Regions from separate parts of the Homo sapiens genome. Here region 1 is linked to region 2. The links come from fine-mapping of genetic effects on gene expression. A gene starts in region 2. The other region holds a variant in brackets. All regions are shown on one strand. Distances are from middle to middle. Region 1 overlaps SLC43A2 (solute carrier family 43 member 2). Region 2 holds the start of SLC43A2 (solute carrier family 43 member 2).

Region 1 (5,358 bases), 39 kb before region 2:
CCCCACGGCTCTAGCCAGGAGGCATGTCTGGAGCTTGAGGTGAGGAGCTTCTGGGTTGAACAGAGACTGGCTGGGAGGGGACATCACAGCATTCCCTGACAATCCCCCCCACCCCCCGCTTACCCGTGGCCATCACTGCATCAAGAAAGCAAAAGTGAAAAAGCAGAAAGAAGAGAGGTTAGTGGCAGAAATCTCAGTGCTACAGAGAGATGGGAGAGGAGGCAGGCTCACTCCATGCCCAGCACGCACTGCATTTCCCACACTGCGTTTCCCGCACTGCATTTCCCACTAAGCGTGACTCGGGGCGCTCAGGGGAGGCAGAGCTGCAGCCAGGCCTCTGGAAGTGGACTTGGGACAATGCCCAGCCCGGGCCCCTGCTGACATTCTCCTGTCTGCTGGTGCCGGGTCACAGGCGGACTGGTGAATCAGGCCTGTGACGTTGGCGGGTAGCGTGATGGGGAAGTGGCGGGCATGCGGAAGACCTGGTGCAATCAGGGTCCCTGTCACCACACTGCCTGCGGGAAGCGGCTCTGTCACATCTACCTCCTGCTGTGCTCAGAGAGAGGGAAAGGTCAAAGAACCTGCCCCTGATGCCCAGCCAAGGCATCTGACACCATGGGTCTCCTCCAGATGGCCAGAGCTGGTCTCCCTTCCACTCCAAGAAACGGGGACCATGCCTGGGCCTGCTCCCCTTCCTTGGGCCATGGCCCCCCTGCCACAGAGGCCTGGTGGCCCCTGAGCTGCTGCTCCGAGTGGAATGTCCTGGTCTAGAGGCCCTTGGCTGCTCCAGTGTCTTAAGACCCATATGTGAGTGCTGGCTCTGACCTTGAACAAGCTCCTCCATCACTCCAGGCCTCGTTTTTCAGGTGTATATGATGATAGTATCTATCATAAATGATGACGTAAACAGATGATAGTATCTATTTAACTCCTAGATTGTTATCAAGTCAAGGACAACAATAGGAAAACATGTCACCTGTCAACTCTTACAAAGGGAGGGTAGGACAGGTGGCCCCTGACTAGGGGGTGGGGGTGCAGGGGGCACCCGACCCATCTGGCCAGCCACAGCCTCTGTACCCTGCTCCCATTTTCAGGCCTCAATCCCCAAGCACTGTTGGCCCTGGACTGTTTTCCCCCCTTAATTCTGTTTCTCAATGCCTGCTTCTTCCCAGTAAGTGCCACACCCTGAGGGTGGGTGGGAGAGTGAGGCAGCAGTGCCCACTTTGGCTGGGACTGGGCACTGCTGAGGACAGCATGGGCCACGTCTTCCCCATCTCAAGACTGGCTTTTTGGCTGGGCATCGTGGCTCACGCCTGTAATCTCAGCACTTTGGGAGGCTGAGGCACGTGGATCACTTGAAGTCAGGAGTTGGAGACATGGTGAAACTCCGTCTCTACTAAAAATACAAAAATTAGCTGGGCATGGTGGCAGGTGCCTGTAACCCCAGCTACTTGGGAGGCTGAGGCAGAACAATCGCTTGAACCCGAGAGGCGGAGGTTGCAGTGAGCCGAGCTCATGCCACTGTGCTCCAGCCCGGGTGACAAGAGCGAAAATCCATGTCAAAAAAAAAAGACTGTATTTTTGGCTGGGCATTGTGGCTCATGCCTATAATCTCAGCACTTTGGGAGGCTGAGGTGGGAGAACTGCTTGAGCCCAGGAGTTTGAGACCAGCCTGGGAAAAATAGCAAGACCTTGTCTTTATGGAAAAAAAAAAAAAACAAATTAGCCAGGCATGGTGGCACACACCTGTAGTCCCAGATACTTAGGAGGCCGAGGTGGGAGGATCCCTTGAGCTCAGGAGTCGGAGGCCGTGGTGAGCTATCAGTTGCACCACTGCACTCCAGCCTGGGTGGCAGAGCAAGACCCCAACTCAAAAAAAAAAAAAAAAAAAAAAAGGCGGCCTTTTCCCAGCTGCCAGCACCCTGGCTAGTTAGGGTTTCCCTGAATCCGCAACTCCTGTTTGATGGCGGGTCTCAAACGCTGGGAGGCAGCAGAGTCACCGGTCAGCGGCAAGGCCTGGAGTCTCCATTCGGAACCAGCACCCGGGAGCCTCTGCCGCGGGTGGTCGCGGGGCCGTACGCGGAGGCGATGGCTCTGGTGCTTTGAGCCGTTCCTCAGCAGCACGGCACACCCCCTCCTGCGGAGCCGCAAAGCTCACGAGTGTGCGGAAAGTGACCCGGACCCTGCAGCTGCCTCTCGGCCGGAGCTAGGGCTATGGGTGTTGGGTGTAACGGGTCACAGAAGGAGGAGGGGGAAAACCAGTGCCTCGTCTGCCACAGACCAACCTTCCTGGCCTGGCTTCCTCTACTTCTTGAAATTGACTTTTTGAACATACGAAACAGTTGGAAACATTCCTCCTGGGCAGCAAAAGATTTCTCAGACAGCTTGAGTAA[A/C]AGACGCTGACTCAGCAGCAGGGAGATGAGCCTTTCGAGGGCCAGGGACCAGCTCTCTCTGCACACTTTGGGGTTTCCGCCACTCCAGGGCTGAATGTTTATCAGGCTGGGTGTGGAGGTTTACGCCTGTAATCCCAGCACTTTGGGAGGCCAAGAGGGGAGGATCCCTTGAGCCCAGGAGTTCGACACCAACCTGGGCAACACAGCAAGACCCTATCTCTGCAAAGAATTTAAAAATTAGCTGGGTGTGGTGGCGCGCACCTGGGGAGCCCTAAGAGGTCAAGGCTGCAGCGTTCACATCACTGCACTCCAGCCTAAGCAACGCAGAAAGAGACCCTGCCTCAAAAAAACAAGAAAGAAAGAGACATGATAGATTAGGGTTCCCCAAAGTGTGTTCCACAGATATTTTTTTTTCTTTTGAGATGGAGTCGCACTCTGTCGCCCAGGCTGGAGTGCAGTGGCGCAATCTCGGCTCACTGCAACCTCCACCTCCTGGGTTCAAGCAATTCTCTGCTTCAGCCTTCCAAGTAGCAGGGATTACAGGGGCCCACCACCACGCCTGGCTAATTTTTTGTATTTTTAGTAGAGATGGGGGTTTCACAATCTTGGCCAGGCTGGTCTTGAACTCCTGACCTCATGATCCACCTGCCTCAGCCTCCAAAAGGGCTAGGATTACAGGCGTGAGCCACCGTGCCTGGCCTAGACTACCATTTTCACAGTAGAACTGGCTGTTATCTGGTTCCCTTTGCTATCTTTTCCTTTTGATAAAGCTGGATTTCTCATCCCCTAAAAACCTGATAACTGATTCTTCACAAGTCCTAGGGTATCTTCACCTTGATAAAAACAAGGAAACCATCGGAAAAAGTGGCACACCAGGGAGGCTGCCAATAAAAAGGATTTGGAGTGTTTGTCCCGCCTGGGGATGACTAAGGCTGACTCAGCTCAGGCCCCGGGGAAGTCCTGACTTTCTCTGTAGAATCAAAACCTCTAATCAGCTGAAGACCTGCCCTGTTTGGAAAAGTGGACTGTGGGTTATCAGCTGTGTTTGTTGGAGCTGACAAGCCTCAACTGTTCGCAAGCTCCGAGGAAGTCTCTGCCCTGCCCTGTTTCTCGGTGAGGGATGCAGATCCCAGTGTGGGCCAGTTGCCCCAGCGTCTCCAGCCCCGTCCTGACCTCGATGCCCAGGGTGTCCACGCACCCACCGTGCCACTTTCTGGGAGGACTTTGGGCTTGACCTGCTGTCTTTCAGCCATGCTCAGGTGGAGCGTTCTGTTCTGTTTTCATTTACAGACACACACGGCAACCCTCCCCCTCAGGCACTGGAAAACACACACCCCACACCCCACACCCAGGAGGCTATTTTGGTCCTTCCCTCCCTCCTGGACCAGGAAACCCTGATGGGGACACGAAGAAACAGTTGGGGCTGGCAGTGATGCAATAGCTCTGACGGGCAGACAGCTCCTGGGATGCGGCCTTTCCATGGCCCGGCTGGCCCGGCTCAGCTTAACACATTCTGGCCGGTGGCCAGTGGGCTGGGCTCAGGCCGGGGAGTGACAGCGACCGAGGCTGCCCGGGGCACCTACCTGTCTTCTGGTCGCCGCTGACCAGGAACTTGAGGATGTTGTTCATAGCCCCCATGTAGAAGATGAGCCGCAGCTGCGTGACGCACATGGTGACCAGGCTGAGCAGCAGGATGGGGCTGAACACGCTGTGCATGAAGGAGGGGGCCACTGCAGGGAGAGGGTGCGGGGCTCAGGGCCGGGGCACACTGTCCCCACCACCGGGGGGACACGCAGATCCCTCCACGCTGGAGGCCAGGAGGGGGCCCTCGGGACGGGCCTGGTGAGGGTAACGGGGTTGGCGCTGCGGTGGGGTCACCTCTTGGGTGAAATCAGGCAAATCCCTTTCCCTCCCCCAGGCCTTCCTGAGCGCCTCTGCAGAACAGGGCGGGCGGGGCCGCCTCCCCTTTTGGGGTGAGGTGGGAATGGGGTGAGCCGATACCCACAGAGCACTCCCTGCCCGTCGCCCGGCTGCGGTCTCAGGCGGGTACCTGCGGCATCCGGCTGGCACTTCACCTCCAGGTCGACGGTGGACAGGCACAGCTTGTGGCCCTCCTGCAGCGCCACCTGCTCCTTGGCACTCCTCATGGAGCTGCCCACACTCAGGCGCCGGCCCACCGTGGTCACCTGCTTGTAGAACTGCTTCCCTGTGATCTTGTGGTCAAAGCCCAGCCAGCTGAACTTGATCTTCACCCTGGGGCCCCGGGAGAGTGTCTGTGGGTGCTGCCCGGGACCCCGGCTGGGGGGCGGGGGCTGGGGGCAGGCGGGACGGGGGCACCTCTACTTACGAGTAGTCCATGTCCTCCGGCCCCGGGAAGGGCTCAAGGGGCCAGTTAAAGAAGCAGTTGAGGAAAACCAGCCCGGAGCAGCCGGCCCAGACCACGAGGACGACGATGAAGGAGACACCAGCATCATAGATGAGCTGACAGGCACCGCGGGGACGGGGTGGGGGGGGGAGGGGGCAGAGTTAGCCCGGGGAGGCCAGAGCCGCAGCAGGCAGGGGCGTCTGGCCACCCCTGCTGTCCCTGTGCTGAGCCGCGCAAAGAGGCACAGCCCTGCCAGCCTGGGCGTTGGGGCATCAGGCACCCGCCTTCCAGTCCTCCCACCGTGCCTGCCCTGCTGGTCATCTGGGCCTGGCGTGTGATTAGCCCCCCGACTCGGAGGCCTTCCTGACCGCCCCGCCATGACCACGGCACGTCTTGCAGGCTCATAGTGATCGGCCCAGCAGAGGGGACGGTGCTCCTGGTCCGTCGGCTTGTCTGGTATTAGCGGAGCTCCCTGAAGGCGGGAACCGGCCAGCCCCGTCCACTGATGCTTCCCCAGTGCCTCTGAGAGCTCACATGGCAGAGGCCAAAGAAATGCTCAAGGAAGCCAGGCATGGTGGCTCACGCCTGTAATCCCAGCAC
Region 2 (5,358 bases):
AAAATTGGAGGCAGGAGCAAAAGTTCGGGATAAGAAGTTGATGTTCAACCCACAATCCTGACCCTTCACCTTCACTTTGGTTTAGTGGAGTTACCTGTCAAGTCTGCCCAGGGCTTAAAACACCAACTCAGCACTGCGCTGGCACAATCTCTGGGACTCCTCCCACTTAGACAGAGGAGGAAGCTGAGGTTGAGGCAGGAATGAAAGGACCAGACCCAATTCTGCCAAAACCATACAATCAATTAAATCCGTGGACATTCTATTAAAAAAAAACAAAAAACAAAAAACAAACAAAAAACACCTAGAATCTGACCTTCCGACATCATGGTGGGTTAAAAAAAAAACACACAAAAAAACACCTGCCCACAACAGTTCTCTGGTCTGGGTGAGACACTAAAAGCTTTCTCTGGGGACGATGACTTTTTTTCTGCTTTTTTTTTTTTTTTTTAAACCCTGTGTCCAGCCTGAAAGAGCCCACCAGGGAGGCAAGCAGGAAGGGTCACGATCTCTAAGGGGGGAGAGAGGAAAGGAGAGGAAGAAGTAAACACTCCAACCTGTGCCTTTCGGGGACAGGCATTAATCTCCTAACAACTCTTGGCCAAAGCAGAAAGCTTGTTCAGGGAACAAGGTCTGACTCTTCCCAACTCCCAAGATTTCTTGCTGATGTGGGGAAAGACCTGCCAAGAACCCTTAGGCTATTAGGAAATATTTTTGAGTGGCTAAAGGCTAAAGGTTAGTTATAAATGATATACTTTCTGTCCTCTCCCCGCGGCCTCTGCATTCTCCTGCTTTCTCCTGCCCTGAACCTCTCCAGCTAAGCCTCCCTCCCTAGAGACTGGGACACACAGGAATCTCCGGGGCAGATCAGAGAAGGGAAACAGGGAGGCTTCCACAAAGGATTACACCCAGCATGAGCTGGTCCAAAGCTTTCTCTTCCTGCAAAGAGCTCTAGAAAGAAAAGGCCTGCTGCTGGGGATTCAGGAAGTCAAACCTGGGCTACCTCCATCTAAGGGCACTCTAGCACTGGCGACAGGGATTATGTGAGCTCAGCTATTATGCAGCTACCGTTGGGATCAAGGAGAAGGCAGAGGGAAAATTTCCTGTCAAGGTTGCCTAAGAAGGAGGGTAGGAGGCTAGAGGCTGGGGGCTGCTGTGGCCCTCCTGTGGGGCTGAATTTACTGCCCTGTAGTCATCAGGACCCTCCAACAGGGTATGAAGGTGTGAAGGTAAGTGTGTGTTGGGTGGTGCAGATGTCATGTAGAGAAGCATCCTCAGCCTGCCTTCAGCAATTCCAGTGACAAGGCAAAGAGGAGAGAACAACCCTAGCATCATTTCCATAAACGTTCCTTTCTTCTCTTCCCCTTCATCCCCATGGGGTTGGAAAGCCACGGAGATGTCCTCAGAGCCCGTGGGGGAAATGTCCTTTGGAGAATCATAAGGCAGCAAAAATAGACAAGAAATTGTGTCCAGCAAGCACTTAGGAGACTCCACAATGGCCTGAGGAACGTCTAGATTCTAGATGAGCCCTCCCTGGGGTGGAGGCAAGGCCACTTCCTCTCCTGCTGCACCCCAGCCCCTTAATCTGGAGTTCCTCTTTCTCACAAGCAGACAGCAACATGTTTACTACCAGCCAAGCTATGTTCCAGGGCTGGGAGGAGAGGAGAGCAGTCCAGCACTGTTCGTAGCGGGTGGAAGGAACACCCTGGACAGCAGGTGGGGTTCTGGGTGGATGGCAGGCCCAGGCTCTGCGGCCTTGCGCAAGACAGATCGCTCTGAGCCTCGATGTCTTCGTCCACAAAACAGGGGCAATGACAAGTACCCGGCAGGGCTGGGTGAGGATCAGATGGGCCTTCTGATACCCTAGAGGCACTGGGCAATGCGGTGCTGTGGCTCGCTAGGTCTTCGCCCCCATCCCGCCCCCTCCCAAAGCCCCAGCTCCAGGAGCCCCCCGCAACCCCAGGCGCTTGTCTCACCTGGCTCGGTACACAGGTAGGAGTAAAAGCCCTCTGACTTGAGCATGATGAGCAGCGAGCCCCAGCCCAGGAGGACTGCCGAGAAGAGGAGGTTCTCCAGCACGGCCGTGCAGGCCATCCACCAGCGGCGCCGATGGGCAGTGGCCAGGGTGGGCGCCATGGTGCGGCGCGGCGCGGCTCCGGCTCCGGCTCCGGCTCTGCACCACCTGCGCACAGAACTCGGCGTCAGCGGCCGGCCCTTGCCCAGCCCCTGCGGCCGCCCCCAGCAGCCCCGACCGCTGCCGCAGGGCTCGGGATTGCCACCCCTCCCCGGCCGCGGCGGCCGGTGCGCGCAGCAGAGGAAGCGAACCCCAGCCCTGCCCGGACCTGGGACACCCCGAGCCCGCGGCCGGCTCGTACCGCTGCCCTCCGCTACGACAGAGCCGCCCCGGCCAGGCAGGGAGACGTCTCCCGCAGCTCACTCCGAGGTAAACTGAGGCATGGAGGCAAGAAGGGGCTAACGCATGCTCAGGGCCGTGGAACTAGTCCTGGCCTGCAGCAGGACTGACATCGCCTGGGGCCAGCATGGAACGCAGCGTGAGGTGGGCAGGGGCAGATCCGAGGGCTGCCTCTCCCAGGGACCCTGACAGGTGCCCTCCCGCCCGCGCCCGAGACCCTTCCCCAGAGCTGGTTTCTTCAACCACAAGATCAGCGCCCAGACCTACGGAACGGCCCGCCCCGGCGCGCTCATTGGCCGGACGGCGCAGGAACTGCCGCGCCATTGGCCGCCGTCTAGGTCGCTAGGCGCTGCGGCCACGCGAACCCAGCGTGGGAGACGAGGAGCCGGTTCAAACCGGTGGCGCGAGCCAGCCGCGCGACCCCCATCTCGGGCGTTCCCCCGGCAACTCGCCCGTTTCCATGGCCTCGGACCCCCGCGCCTCCATTCCCCAGCCCGCATCTGTTCGTCATCTCTTCCCTGGCGGCCCCTCATCGCTCCATCTCTCTCCTCGTTCCCACGTTTTCTCCCTACGCCCCTTCGGCGGCCGCTTCTGCCCCCGCGCCCTCGCCCCGGCCGCGATCCCCTCCCTGCTGCAGCTCACCCGGCTCCTCCGGCGTGTGTCGGGCCCGCCCGGCGCCTTTTCTGCCCTCTTTTATTCCAGCCCTTTTATTCCGACCCCAAGAAGAAAACACTGCCGCCCGCTGATTGGCTGAGCGGGGCTGGAAACAGGCGTCGACCAATCAGCAGCCAGCCCCCCGCCCGCCCCGCCGCGAGCAGAAGCCGGTTCCGGCCGGACTCGGAGACAAACAAGAGAGATGGGGGACGGGAGGGGCCTGGGCGCTGCGGGCCGGGCCTCGGCTTTGCAGCCTTCAACCCGAGTCACAGCGCGGCCGGGAATCCCCGGCGACATCGCCCCGCGGCCTCTCCAGCGGCCTGACCCTGCGAGGCTGGGGCTCCGGCTCCGCGTCCCGGCCCCCAGCGGACTCCCCCCAGAAGCCGCCGGGCCACCAGCGCCCCCAGCCGGGCTCTCCCGCGGCCGCCCCGCCGTCCCCAGCTGCCCCCTGCGCGCGGGTCACCACGCCCAGATGCGCCGGCTCCGCACGGTGGTTCCACTCTCGAATCCCCACCCCGCCTCCTCCCCACGCAGCGCCGCCGTCCCCGCCGCCTCGGGCTTTGGGTCCTGGTTCCTCGCTCCCCCGCCCCGGTGGTTCCCGTCCCGGCGTATTCGGGGCCTGGGATCCCGGACCCGGTCCAGCCGTGGCGCCCCCCGCTGATGCACCGACCCCTTCCCCTCTCCCCGGTGGCGTCTGCCCGGTCCCTGGAAGTTGGCCCTTGGAAATCTGCAAGGGGATTTGGGGCTGGTCTGTCCCGTCCTAGGATGGGGTCTCCTGAGCTCCCCCCATCAGACTGACCTTTCTCCGCCCGTGTTCACGCACTGCTCGGTCCTCCGGGGACCCTCCACCCTTGATCGTCATCTGGGTGCTCCCTGCCCGCGCTGGCCACCTTCACCCCGTTCCCCGTCCCTTTCAGGGAAGGTCCCCTCTGCAGGGCGATGCTACGGGCCACGTCCGCCAGCTGGTACAAGCTAGGGAGGGTTCGAGGGGGCTCCGGGTCCCCGTCTGATAAGCCCGGGCTCCGAAAGCTCAGCTCCCCGTCTTCGTCCCCCGGATTCGAGGCACTAACCCGACCCGGGAAGACCCTCTGACTGCCCCAGAATCGCCTTGGTCACCCTGGCTCGCTCCGGGGGGCTGGCTTAGCACCCCAGGGCTGCCGCGCGGTGTCCACGTCTGGAATCCCAGCGGTTTGGGAGGCTAAGGTCGGAGGGCCACTTGGGGACAGGAGTTTGAGACCAGCCTGGGCAGCATGGCGAGAACCATCTCTACCAAAATAAAAACCAAAAATAAAACCCCACCACCACCCCAGGGCTGTGGGAGCCCCAAACGCCTCTTGCTCCACCTGCCCCAGTCCGAGTGTGCCCCCTACTGTCTAGAATCCGCCCGGGCCACCTGGCGAGGGCAACCTCCCCCAGACAACGCTTGGAGCTGTCAGCCTGCTGGGGGGCGGCTCCAGCTGGTAGCCTACCCGGTTCCTCACCCTGTGGAACCCTTCCCACTCCCAAGGTTTCAACTGCCATCTGAAAAATCTCTTTCTTCACCCTTCCCTCCTCTTTGAGCAGCCTGACGGCGCTGCAGGGCTCAAACATGCCTCAAATATCCCCCAGAACTGTCCTCCACATTTTCTCTCAGATAACCATACTACTACTGTCTACTGAAGTTAGATACCAAGAACCCTGTCTTTTTTCTTTTTCTTTTTTTTTTTTTTTTTTTGAGACAGGATCTCAGGCACCCAGACTGCTGGAGTGTGGTGGCATGATCATAGCTCACTGCAGCCTCGACCTCCTGGGCTTAGGTGATCCTCCTGCCTCAGCCTCCCAAGTAGCTGGGACCACAGGTGCATGCTACCACACTTGGCTAATTTTTGTATTTTTTGTACAGATAGGGTCTTGCCCTGTTGCCCAGGCTGGTCTTGAAGTCTTGGGCTCAAGTGATCCTCCCACCTCAGCCTCCCAAAGTGCAGGGATTACAGGCATGACTCACAGTGCCCTGCTGAGAACCATCCTTTCATCAGACATTTGTTAGGCAGTCGCTGTGATTCTGCCTCTCCCTCACCGCATCCCCATCAAACTGATACAGCTGTATCTCCTACATATTTACCTAATCGGTCCATCTGTGCCCTTAGGCCCGCAACTACTGTTGTTGAGCCACCTTCAGATTTCAGTTCCTCAAATCCAGCCCCCATCTCATCCCAGGGCACTAAGGGAAATGTAAATGTGACTTCTGCCAAAATCCTTCAGAAACTATTATTTGTAAAACAGGATAAAGTTCCAGTTCCTGGCTGGGCACGGTG

What was found. PIP is the estimated chance that this variant, and not a neighbour inherited with it, causes the effect.
Region 1: its variant is fine-mapped to the expression of SLC43A2 in blood mononuclear cells (TOPMed, PIP above 0.99).

What each region holds. Positions count from the first base shown.
Region 1 is chr17:1,586,826-1,592,183 of GRCh38, forward strand. It overlaps SLC43A2 (solute carrier family 43 member 2), which reads right to left. Exons shown (of 14, transcript NM_152346.3): 7 at 4,741-4,874; 8 at 4,444-4,646; 9 at 3,977-4,123. Among named protein-coding and RNA genes, the nearest start is that of PITPNA, 27 kb to the left of the region's middle. RefSeq lists enhancers at 1-442, 443-989, 990-1,536, 3,178-3,723, 3,724-4,269 and a silencer at 5,037-5,202. The variant A/C (reference allele first, on the strand shown) is at 2,394.
Region 2 is chr17:1,625,742-1,631,099 of GRCh38, forward strand. SLC43A2 (solute carrier family 43 member 2) reads right to left here and starts at 3,093. Exons shown (of 14, transcript NM_152346.3): 1 at 3,053-3,093; 2 at 1,974-2,179. The coding sequence starts at 2,133. RefSeq lists enhancers at 1,266-1,803, 1,804-2,341.